3 separate regions of the Homo sapiens genome follow, and all the other regions are reported to be linked to region 1. Evidence: microRNA targets listed by miRTarBase, many of them from high-throughput screens and not tested one by one. Region 1 holds a microRNA gene; each other region holds the end of a gene's coding sequence.

Region 1 (3,263 bases):
TTAAATGTCTTAGTATACAGCATCTATGGTATATTATGTATGCTTTTAGCTAAAGAATAAATGTATTTTTTCATCAATAGTTACTAAATTCTCTAAAATGAACATGGACTCTTTGTGAATTTATTTTTATTTTTATATTTTGAGACAAGATCTCGCTCTGTCACCTAGGCTGGAGTGCGGTGACCCAATCATAGCTTATTGCAGCCTTGAACTCCTTGGCTCAAGCAATCCTCCCACTTCAGCCTCCTAAGTAGTTGGGATGACAGGCATGTGCCACCCAGCCCTGGTAATTTTTATTTTTTTTGTGTGGAAATGGATCTTGCAATGTTGCCCAGGCTGGTATTGAACTCCTGACCTCAAGTGAGCCTCCTGCCTCTGCCTCTGAAAGTGCTGAGATTATAAACATGAGCCACTGTGCCCAGCCATGAATTTTAAAAAAGTAAATATAGTAAGAAAAAAATGGCTAGGTGTAGTGATGCTCACCCTTAGTCCCAGCTAATTGGGAGGCTGAGGCAGAAGAATCTCATGAGCCTAGGAGTTTGAGGCCAACCTGGGCAACATAGTGAGACCTCCAGCTCTAAAAAATAAAAATAAAAATAAATTTTAAAATTAAAAGAATTGTAATGTAATTAATTGTACTTTTAAAAATATTTTTATTTTATCTTTTAAGGCATAACATAACAAGTCTTTTGTGCACACGCCTATTTTTTGTTGTTGTTGTTTTTTGAAATGGAGTCTCACTCTGTTGCCCAGGCTGGAGTGCAGTGGCACAATCTCGGCTCACTGTAGCCTCTGCAATTGTTCAAGAAATTCTTATGCCTCAGCCTTCTGAGTAGCTGGGATTACAGGCATGAGCCACCACGTCTGGCTAATTTTTGTATTTTTAGTAGAGATAGGGTCTTGCCATGTGGGCCAGGTTGGACTTGAACTCCTGACCTCTGGTGATCGACCCACCTCAGCTTCCCAAAGTGTTGGGATTATAGGTGTGAGCCATGGCACCTGGCCTATGTCTATGTATTTTGACAAATATATACACATTTATATTACAAACAGCCCTATCAAGATGGTAGGGACTTTGCCCTGTGGTGTCACCATATGTCTTCAGGGCCACAAGCACTTAGAATAATGGATCCCATAAATTCTGCTTGGAAAATCATTATACAATTTCATGATCGCAAGAGACTTTAAAGTCACTCTAATCCACTTAAAAGGAATAATTTATAATTATTCTGTATACTGCCTTTACTGATTTTAAACTAATACCCTAATCCTAATATTTTAAGATTTGATGGAGATATTCATGTTTGTTTTTCCAAGTCATTCATCATTTAACAGATTTCAATATGTTATAAATTGTCATAAGAAAAACAAACACATATAAAACAAAACAAAAACGCTGTCTCAGAATCAGTGGTTTGCAATATGACCTAGAGGGAAAGCTAGGAAGAAGCCCTGGTTAATTTTAATTCCATATCAGGTAAGTGTCTAATGTCTAGAAAAAAGATGCTCCCCAGCCTTTCTATGCTCCTGTTCTGCTTTGATGAAATAAAGCAGAACAGGAGCATAGAAAGGCTGGGGAGCAACAAATGAAGGTCAAGGATCTAGTTCAAGCTTGGTGACTACTCTACACTTCATTTTCTTCATTGGTAAAATAAATGTAGCCATACCTTTCCCATTATCTATCACACAGGGTTATTCTAAGGATAAAATACAGAAAATAATTTAAGGATGTTATGCAACCCATAAGCTATTCTTACTGTATAATAAAATATACAACACATAGTTTGTATGTCTGCATAAGGATGTACATTGCCAGCTTTAGGAGCGAGTTGTTCCATCCCATAGCATCCAATCTTTGTTGTATATATTAATAGATTAGAAAAAATTCAAATATTGAACTAATTTGGCTGCCTATTTGGCTATATTTATTTAGATCTATATTTTATGTTATATCTAGTTACTGCCTCATCTATTATTTAGAATATCAGCTCTAACTTGGTGACATTGATTAATCAATAATGATTGCTTTATTTTTGTGAAGCCATTATTTTTTTTTTTTATTCCAGTGATGTTTCAGTGAGCTGTTCCCCCAGTGCTAGTTCAGGCGGTCAAGTCTCCTTCAAGTTAACCACATCCTAAATAGTCAGCATACCACCAAATCCAAAAGCGAGCTAAATGCACTGAGAATTGGGTAAAAACAAATCTCCCAGGATTCTGTATTCCCAGAGTGTATTCAGCCTCTCTGAGAAAAGAAAGCAACTTATAATAATTTATAATTTAGGATTATATTCTTATGAAAGGGCAATGAAATACTGAAAGGACCATTTCATTGGCACTTCTTCAATGACTCTAGAGTTTAATCTATGGAAATTATCCAGTGGAAGCTCAGAGATCCTAAAGTTTATCAAGTGAAAGAAGAATCAGAGAATACATTTGAAAAGAAGAGTTACTCTTAAGAGTAAAAAAGAGTGGTCTGCATAAATATATTTAAGAAAATGTAAGAGAGGGAGGGAGGAAAGGAAGATACATATTGTTGACATAACTAAATATAGGACTAAATTAGTACTGTATAGTATAGGACTAAATAAGCTTAAAGCATGTCAAAGTGACTTGAAAGTTAAAGTTACATAAATGCACTGTTAAGTATTTATTCCTATTTTGTCTCAGTTAAGACTAGTTGTAGCTGTAGGCAAAAATCTTTCTACTTGGACTACACATAATTTTGAGATATAGGTTAGTTACAGACATGAGAAACTATTCTCCAAATGTTAATATAATTAAATAATAGATTTTATAATAATACACTAAAACCTCACTATGTAACTCTCCTACTGTGTTATGGAATTTCTTATAGGGTAAATCCAAATGGGACACATCTGAGGATGTTTATGATCCTAAATGCCAGGAAGACTTTGTAACATACTGTAATATTTTGTAACATTGTCCTGGTGGAAATATACCCAAAAAGAACAGCCTACTTTTTCTCCAAGAACGTGACCTAAGAATAATTCTTTATAGTAATTATGAGTTAATTTTCTCATTATTTCCTAGTTGCAAGCAAACATGGAAAAAATATGAATAAAAATATATGGTATAATGATAGCTAGTATATACAGTATATAATTGTTAAACCATAGAATTAGAGTTGCTTAGTTTGGAAGTACTAGCATATATACACAAAAAGAAATTAAGGAAAGAATTTATTTGTTTACTTTGTCTCCTTTTCCCCGTTGTATCAAAAGGACAATTTTGAATAGTTACCA
Region 2 (3,263 bases), not on the chromosome of region 1:
TATCTCATATTATCATCAGGAATTAGAAGTGATGACCAATAACTAATTCCTCATAAATACTTCCTCCTGTCTTAGTGTAATATAAACATATTTCGAAGAACAAAGTTTACTAAGAAAAAAACAACATTATACGATTTTAAAATAATTAAACACAATAAAGTTTAACAACAAAGTATAAGTTGGAACATGGTCCTGTAGCCTACTTTTAAGATCTAAAAAAAGAAAAAGAGGTTAGAGTTCTCAATGCTTACATAGGATAAAGTACATTTCACTCCTGAAACTAACAGGTAAAGGCAACCCTCTCATTTCTTGAGAATGTCTTATCTTACAGTCACTATATTAATCCACAAATGGAATCACTATTTTCTTCTGAGGATAACACTTCCTGCCTCTTTTTGGCATAACAGTATACAATCATCATGAGTTATCTTTTCCCAAAACAGCTTCCCCTACTAAAAGATAGAAGTTCTATTGGGTATTTTTTTTTTTTTTTTGAGATGGAGTCTTGCTCTGTCACCCAGGCTAAAGTGCAGTGGTGTAATCTTGGCTCACCACCACCTCTGCCTCCAGGGTTCAAGCGATTCTCATGGCTCAGCCTCCCAAGTAGCTGGGATCATAGGCACGTGCCATCACGTCCTGCTAATTTTGTTTTTGTATTTTTAGTAGAGGTGGGTTTTCAACATGTTGGCCAGGCTGGTTTTGAACTCCTGACCTCAAGTGATCCGCCCACCTCGGCCTCCCGAAGTGTTGGGATTACAGGCATGAGCCACTGCGCCCAGCCCTACTGGGTAATTTCATCAGACAACTTTTATATTTTGGTTAAGCCCTTATTCCAGAGAATCCATTTCTTATATACCCAAGCCCAACATAATCATCTCCTTAATTTCCATCCCTAAATAAAACCCACCCACTTCATGCATCAATTTTTCTAAGTATATGACAACAATTTTTGAACACACTAGCCTTAGAGATGATTTTTATATTTCTTGGACATATCCTGAAATGACAAATTCTTGTAAGAGTCACTATTGATAGCCCTTTGGCTATCCTGATGCTTTTAGGAATCCTTGCCCCATCACAGAGATTCTTAAAGAGAACCATGTCAAAATTCCTTGCTCTTTGCTTTTTCCTTTGTTAGTTCAAAATCTTCTTATGAAGGGGTAAACAAAACAATTTATATCATTTGGTTATAATATTTAACTGTATTAAAAAATTGACTAGGAAATTGCTATAAAATTTTTCATCTGTACTTTAAAGCATGTAAAAGTTGAACCCAAACATCTACATGGTTATAAAATTTCACTGAATTCTTTCTTTTAATTACCTGGAACATTCTCCTATCTCTTAAAAATATAATGTTCTTGATTCTACAATTATTTTAAGACACCTTAAGAATAGAAAACTGGAGTAAAAAATATTTACTGGCATTAAACATAAATCTCTAAAACCTCAAAAATAAGACCTACTCATCTCTGAAATAAATAATTTCTATACATCTCTGAACCACGTGACAGACACATACTAGGTATTTTCATTCACCTTTATTTAATCTTTACAGCAACTCCACAAAATAATGATTCCTATCTGTACTTTACAAGAGGAAATGAAGCTTCAAAAAGGGCATTAACTTGCAGGAATGGGCAGTTTGTCAAAATGTATTGGATTCTGTATGTGACTGACAAGCAGAACCATAATTTTATATGCTTCTGACTGTACCATGATGTATCCCAAAAATGTGATACAGCTGTCTTAGATAACGTTGATTTTAATGATCTTTGAGAGGGTGAACACAGTTCCATTGCCAACAGGTCCCATCTCAAAAACACTTAAGTTTCTTGGTAAGAACAGTGAAAATTCACAAAAAGGAGGCTGTTAAAGGTATACACTAGAAGTCATTTTTCAAGGTAACTTTTGATCCCATATATCAGATGTTCTAAGACTGTTAGAACACCTCGTCCAAAGGAATCTGCGTATAATAAACAGGGTTGAGCAATATAATCAATCACATATTTAAGAAACTGAAAACAATTTTTTACATTAAATTGAGTACACATACACATATATATACTCAACAACCACTTCCAGAATACCCTAAGATATTTTTTTCTCCTTGGATTTTTTTTCTTTTGAGATAGTCTCGCTCTGTCGCCCAGGCTGCAGTGAAGTGGCACGATCTTGGCTCACTGTAACCTCTGCCTTCCAGGTTCAAGTGATTCTCCTGCCTCAGTCTTCCAAACCATGCTTGGCTAATTTTTTTTATTTTTATTTTTTTAGTAGAGATAGGGTTTCACCATGTTGGCCAGGTTGGTCTTGAACTCCTCACCTCAAGTGATCCACTCCCTTCAGCCTCCCAAAGTGTTGGGATTACAAGTGTGAGCCATTGTACCTGGCCTTTTTTTCTCTTTTGATAAATGTGTCCCTGAGAATTAGAAAAACAGCATATACTCAAAGTATAGAAAACAGGATACACTTCAAATACTCCTTTTTTGATAAACTCAAAAGCATTATTTTTCCTTAGTCATCTCTTCTCTGGAGGTGAGCTGCTGAGTCAATATGATTTTGTAAGATTAAAAATATATATATATACACACACAGAGAACAGAGTAGAAAAATAATTTTTCAAACCATCAACATTTTATTTAATAAAAGCAACTGAGACATTTTCTAAAGTATACGGTATATTTGATATAAAAATTCTTCAAAATATGTACTATAGAAATTCTTCAAAATATGTACTAAAAATACAAAGTTTGTGAATCTAAGGTACAGAAAACACTTTATACTTCAGTCACCCAAAACAACAGCTTGTGGTCTCCTCCAATTACACACAGAGGGAGAGTTCGATGCCAGGACAGTCCAGATCCAACGGCTACAGAACCCATGAGGATGGGCTATAAAATATGTGAAGAATTAAAGAAGCACAGTAAGTCCCCAAAATTAATAAATAAAAATGACTTTCAAAAATATGAAATGCATTGATGATTTATCTTTGTAGCATAAACAAAATTTAAAAATATGCTCCCTTACAGGTGAAATACACATTATTGATACGCAGCTGAAACATGGGATACAATCCATCTATGAATAACTGGTACAGTCCAGACTCCATTTTTGCAGTCTACACCAACCAAACAAGCAAAATTAATGTATTTAAATAAAGAAGAAAATATAAAAGCAACAGAATAAAAAGCTTCTTATATGAATACTGGCCAAAAAAACCTGTTGTCACTGGTAATGTAAACATCAAAAAAAAACCACACAAA
Region 3 (3,263 bases), not on the chromosome of region 1:
TTCTAGTAACCTATATCCCTTGATATGGGAAGGATATCTTAGTTCTCCCTAGCCCCTTGCTTAGGATTAAGTGAGAGACTTCAGCTTTGGTGTAAAGCTGTCAGCTGCCCTAATCAAGGACAATACACAAAAATTAGACTCCTTATAAGAATAAGGGATTAAATGGAGGAAGATCTAGAAGTGGGTGGGAACAAAAGAGCAGAACTGAGCCTGCATCTGCAGAAAATGTCCAAAGACAACTGGCAGAGTTCACTCCATGGGGAAAAGGCATGTTAGTGTGTAGGTAGAGAAACTGGACAAGGAAGGATGGCCTTAGCCTTCCATAATGGAGAAGTCGGGCAGGGGATGTCTGCATGCAATAGACAACTGAATTAGAAAGAGCAGAAATGTAAACCAGCAGTGCTTCCCTATCTTGGGCCTGGCTAGCTTAAAGGGGCTCTACTGTCATTGGTCAAAAAACTTTCATGAGGAGATCCAATCACTAATGCAACAAACTCTAATGAGTTCTAAGTTGGAGAGAGCTCAGTTCTAAAGCTTGGGGGTAGACAGGTCACTGAGAGAGGAGGAATGAAGGAGTGGGATCTGAACATTGTAATAAGTCATCTAGTAGCTCTGATCACTTTGGACATTGCTGGGGGATACATAACAGCTCACTATAACATTACAACACATACTTATATCTGTTTGCTCCTCCAAACTAACATGACAATGTGTTTCTGCCATCTTAGCTTACAGAGACATGATCTAGTTCAGCTTATACTCAGATTTTACAAAAGAGACTTTGACCACATAGATATTCATAAAATTAATGTGGTTAAGAAAAAAGTGCAGGGGCTTGAAGTCAGAAGAGCTCCGTTCCCATTTTGGCTATGCTGCTGTTCAGGTTTGTGACCTGCAGAGCAGTTTAGCATCTCTGGGTCTCAATTTGTTCATCTGTAGAGCGTGGGTGATCAACCTTTATGTAATCCTTCTGTGTTGAGTGGGTCTCAAGATGGAAGCTCACTATGGGAATTTAAAAGCAAACTGTGGCATCGAAACAAACTGGACAATTGCTTGAACTCTAATATCATCATCCATCCTCATAAAGTAACTTGTTGGTCACTAGTCTGACAGTACTGTTAAAAGACATTTATTTGTAACTTTTGAGAAAATAATTTTCAGACTCTGATCTTAGAATAAGCTCATGAGGAGTCTCATTTCCAAGCTGGAGATCATTTCCAGTTTGAATGAACAATTCTTCTTTTTGGCTTGGGTGAACGTGGGGATAGGTGAAAGCTGAGCTGCACATCCTTCAGAGGTCACAATGAAAAGTCAGTCTTTATTCTAGCAGGGCTTGGTCATCTGGAATAGCTGGTACATAGGTGGCAGCTCCATGCCCTATCTCATACTTTAAACAACATCACCAATATCTTTTTCCGAAATAAGCTTGAGTTGTATATGTTTATTATAGGAGAGAAAAGTTTGCCAAGCGTCTTCTATGGACTAAGCACTTGCTAGGTGTTTTACATATATTCTGCCATTTAATCCTCAAGGCAACTTTAACATGTAAGTATTACTGTCCTCATTTTACAGGTGAAGAAATTGAGACCCAGAGTGATTATATGACCTGCCCAAGGTGGTCACGTCGTTAGGCCATGGCAGAGATCTGAAATAAAAGGTCAGGTCTTCTGACTTCAGTCCATGATTTTTTTTTTTTTTTTTCTATAACATCATGCTACCTAGAAGAAAAAGAAATGAAGGTAAGCAGTCAGCCAGGAAAGTCAGGAAAAATGATATGCTACTTGTAAAGAGCTCCCCTATATTGTATCATTCTGAAATGTCCAATTTTCAAAGAGTCAGAGTAGTACAGAAATGTTCAATGTTAAATCACTACTCAACATAAGCAATCTGACTTTGATGGTTCACAAGCTCTTCCAGATCTTGTCGTGCCTTAAAGTTCTCACTAACAATATCAATTATCAGTGCACTACAGATATATAGGAAAAGAAAATCCCAGGTAACAGAAAAGCCAGATCACCTGCCTCCAAGATGCCGGGCACTGCACGGCTTTTATCAGTTTTTATTACATCAGGTCAAGGAAACAAATGGAATCTATCCACATGGTCCTGCCTCGTTGGGCATATATTCTAAACATACATCCATTTTCATACCCAATGAGAAAGAACTCAATTCCAAAGGATCTCACCTTTCACAAAATTCTACCCTTAAGATCCTAAAACAGTCATATCACTGTGCACAAAATTTTTGGCAGTCACAAGCTCTAACACAAAGCAGAGCTTAAAAACAAATGGAGAATATAATCAGTGTTCAAATGCACCCTCACTGGGTGGGTCAGACTGCATGAGGCAGTGTGGCTGTGTGGAGGGAGAGGTCCGGACCTGTGGCAAACTGCTGCTCCTGCCAGGAGGCTACCAAAGCCAAGGCTCTTAACATATTGAGGTTCCTCAGCTGCCCCAGTGCCTATATCTCTAACAACAGTAAACAGTGAAATACCTGCAGGCAACCATGTCTAAATAAAGAGATAAATATTTGAATCTTCAAGAAGTGGCCAACTTCAGAAAGGCATCTCTTGGCACCCTAGAGGAGACTGGGATGAAAGTTGTACCGGAGACTGGAGAAGAGCCCGATGTGTTTCACGAGGTTCGGCTCCACTACATAGGCCCTCTCTCCCTTGGCCCTCAACAGCGAGTACAGTGCCATGTCCTTGCCAAAGCCCTTGTGGCAGTACACTTGGGACAGGTAGGTGAGGGTCCGGCGGGCCGCAGGTGCCGGGAAGAGCATGGCTGGGGTGCAACACTGAGAGGCAGGAACCACACTGTACAGGGAAGGACTCAGCCGCCGCAGTTCCAGGAAATAGTGCCGACCCACCAGCTCCACCAGACCCATGCTATACAGGGAGAAGAAGAGCATTACAGGCCAGCTAAACCCTGGGCGGCTGGCAAACCTCATGTATATCCAGGTTAGTAAGGGCCCCAGCAACATGCCTACACCAACCCATTCCAGGATCCGCATGGGCTCTGGATTGATGTAGTGCTGGAGCCTCTCGGGGTGATACAGCTTGAGATAAAGGGCATCTCTGAGATGTGGCTCAGAGAAGCGAGCCCGCAGAAGGTGCTCCAAGACTGGGAAGATCTGCTCTTCTGGTACAGCATCGTCTTCTACCATCAGGACGTAGTCTGGGTTGTAGGTCTGCAGGGATGACTCCAGGCAATAGACATAGTCCTGCTTCTCTTTCTCAAACGAGTTGGTCGAAGGGTCATCAC

The links. Region 1 holds the annotated microRNA hsa-miR-4773 (CAGAACAGGAGCAUAGAAAGGC, at 1,552-1,573, shown strand). A microRNA usually pairs through its seed, bases 2 to 8, with sites in the 3' UTR of a target mRNA and lowers its output. Matches are read on the target gene's strand: a 7mer-m8 pairs with bases 2 to 8, a 7mer-A1 pairs with bases 2 to 7 and ends in A, and an 8mer does both.
Region 2: the mRNA of NUP37 is a reported target of hsa-miR-4773. Seed matches in the 3' UTR shown: 7mer-m8 at 2,596-2,602, 7mer-A1 at 1,944-1,950 and 7mer-m8 at 1,842-1,848.
Region 3: miRTarBase lists PGAP4 as a target of hsa-miR-4773. The part of its 3' UTR that is shown has no 7-base or 8-base seed match.

What each region holds. Positions count from the first base shown.
Region 1 is chr2:151,366,653-151,369,915 of GRCh38, reverse strand. MIR4773-2 (microRNA 4773-2) reads left to right here and starts at 1,505; the gene lies at 1,505-1,582. All of the region lies in intron 3 of TNFAIP6 (TNF alpha induced protein 6), which reads right to left. MIR4773-1 (microRNA 4773-1) reads right to left here and starts at 1,582; the gene lies at 1,505-1,582. All of the region lies in intron 2 of LOC101929319 (a long non-coding RNA gene), which reads left to right.
Region 2 is chr12:102,071,577-102,074,839 of GRCh38, forward strand. NUP37 (nucleoporin 37) reads right to left here. Exons shown (of 10, transcript NM_024057.4): 10 at 1,527-2,891. The coding sequence ends at 2,778. Among named protein-coding and RNA genes, the nearest start is that of WASHC3, 11 kb to the left of the region's middle.
Region 3 is chr9:101,473,304-101,476,566 of GRCh38, forward strand. It overlaps PGAP4 (post-GPI attachment to proteins GalNAc transferase 4), which reads right to left. Exons shown (of 2, transcript NM_032342.3): 2 at 1-3,263. The coding sequence ends at 2,578. All of the region lies in intron 1 of TMEM246-AS1 (TMEM246 antisense RNA 1), which reads left to right. Among named protein-coding and RNA genes, the nearest start is that of TMEM246-AS1, 6.5 kb to the left of the region's middle.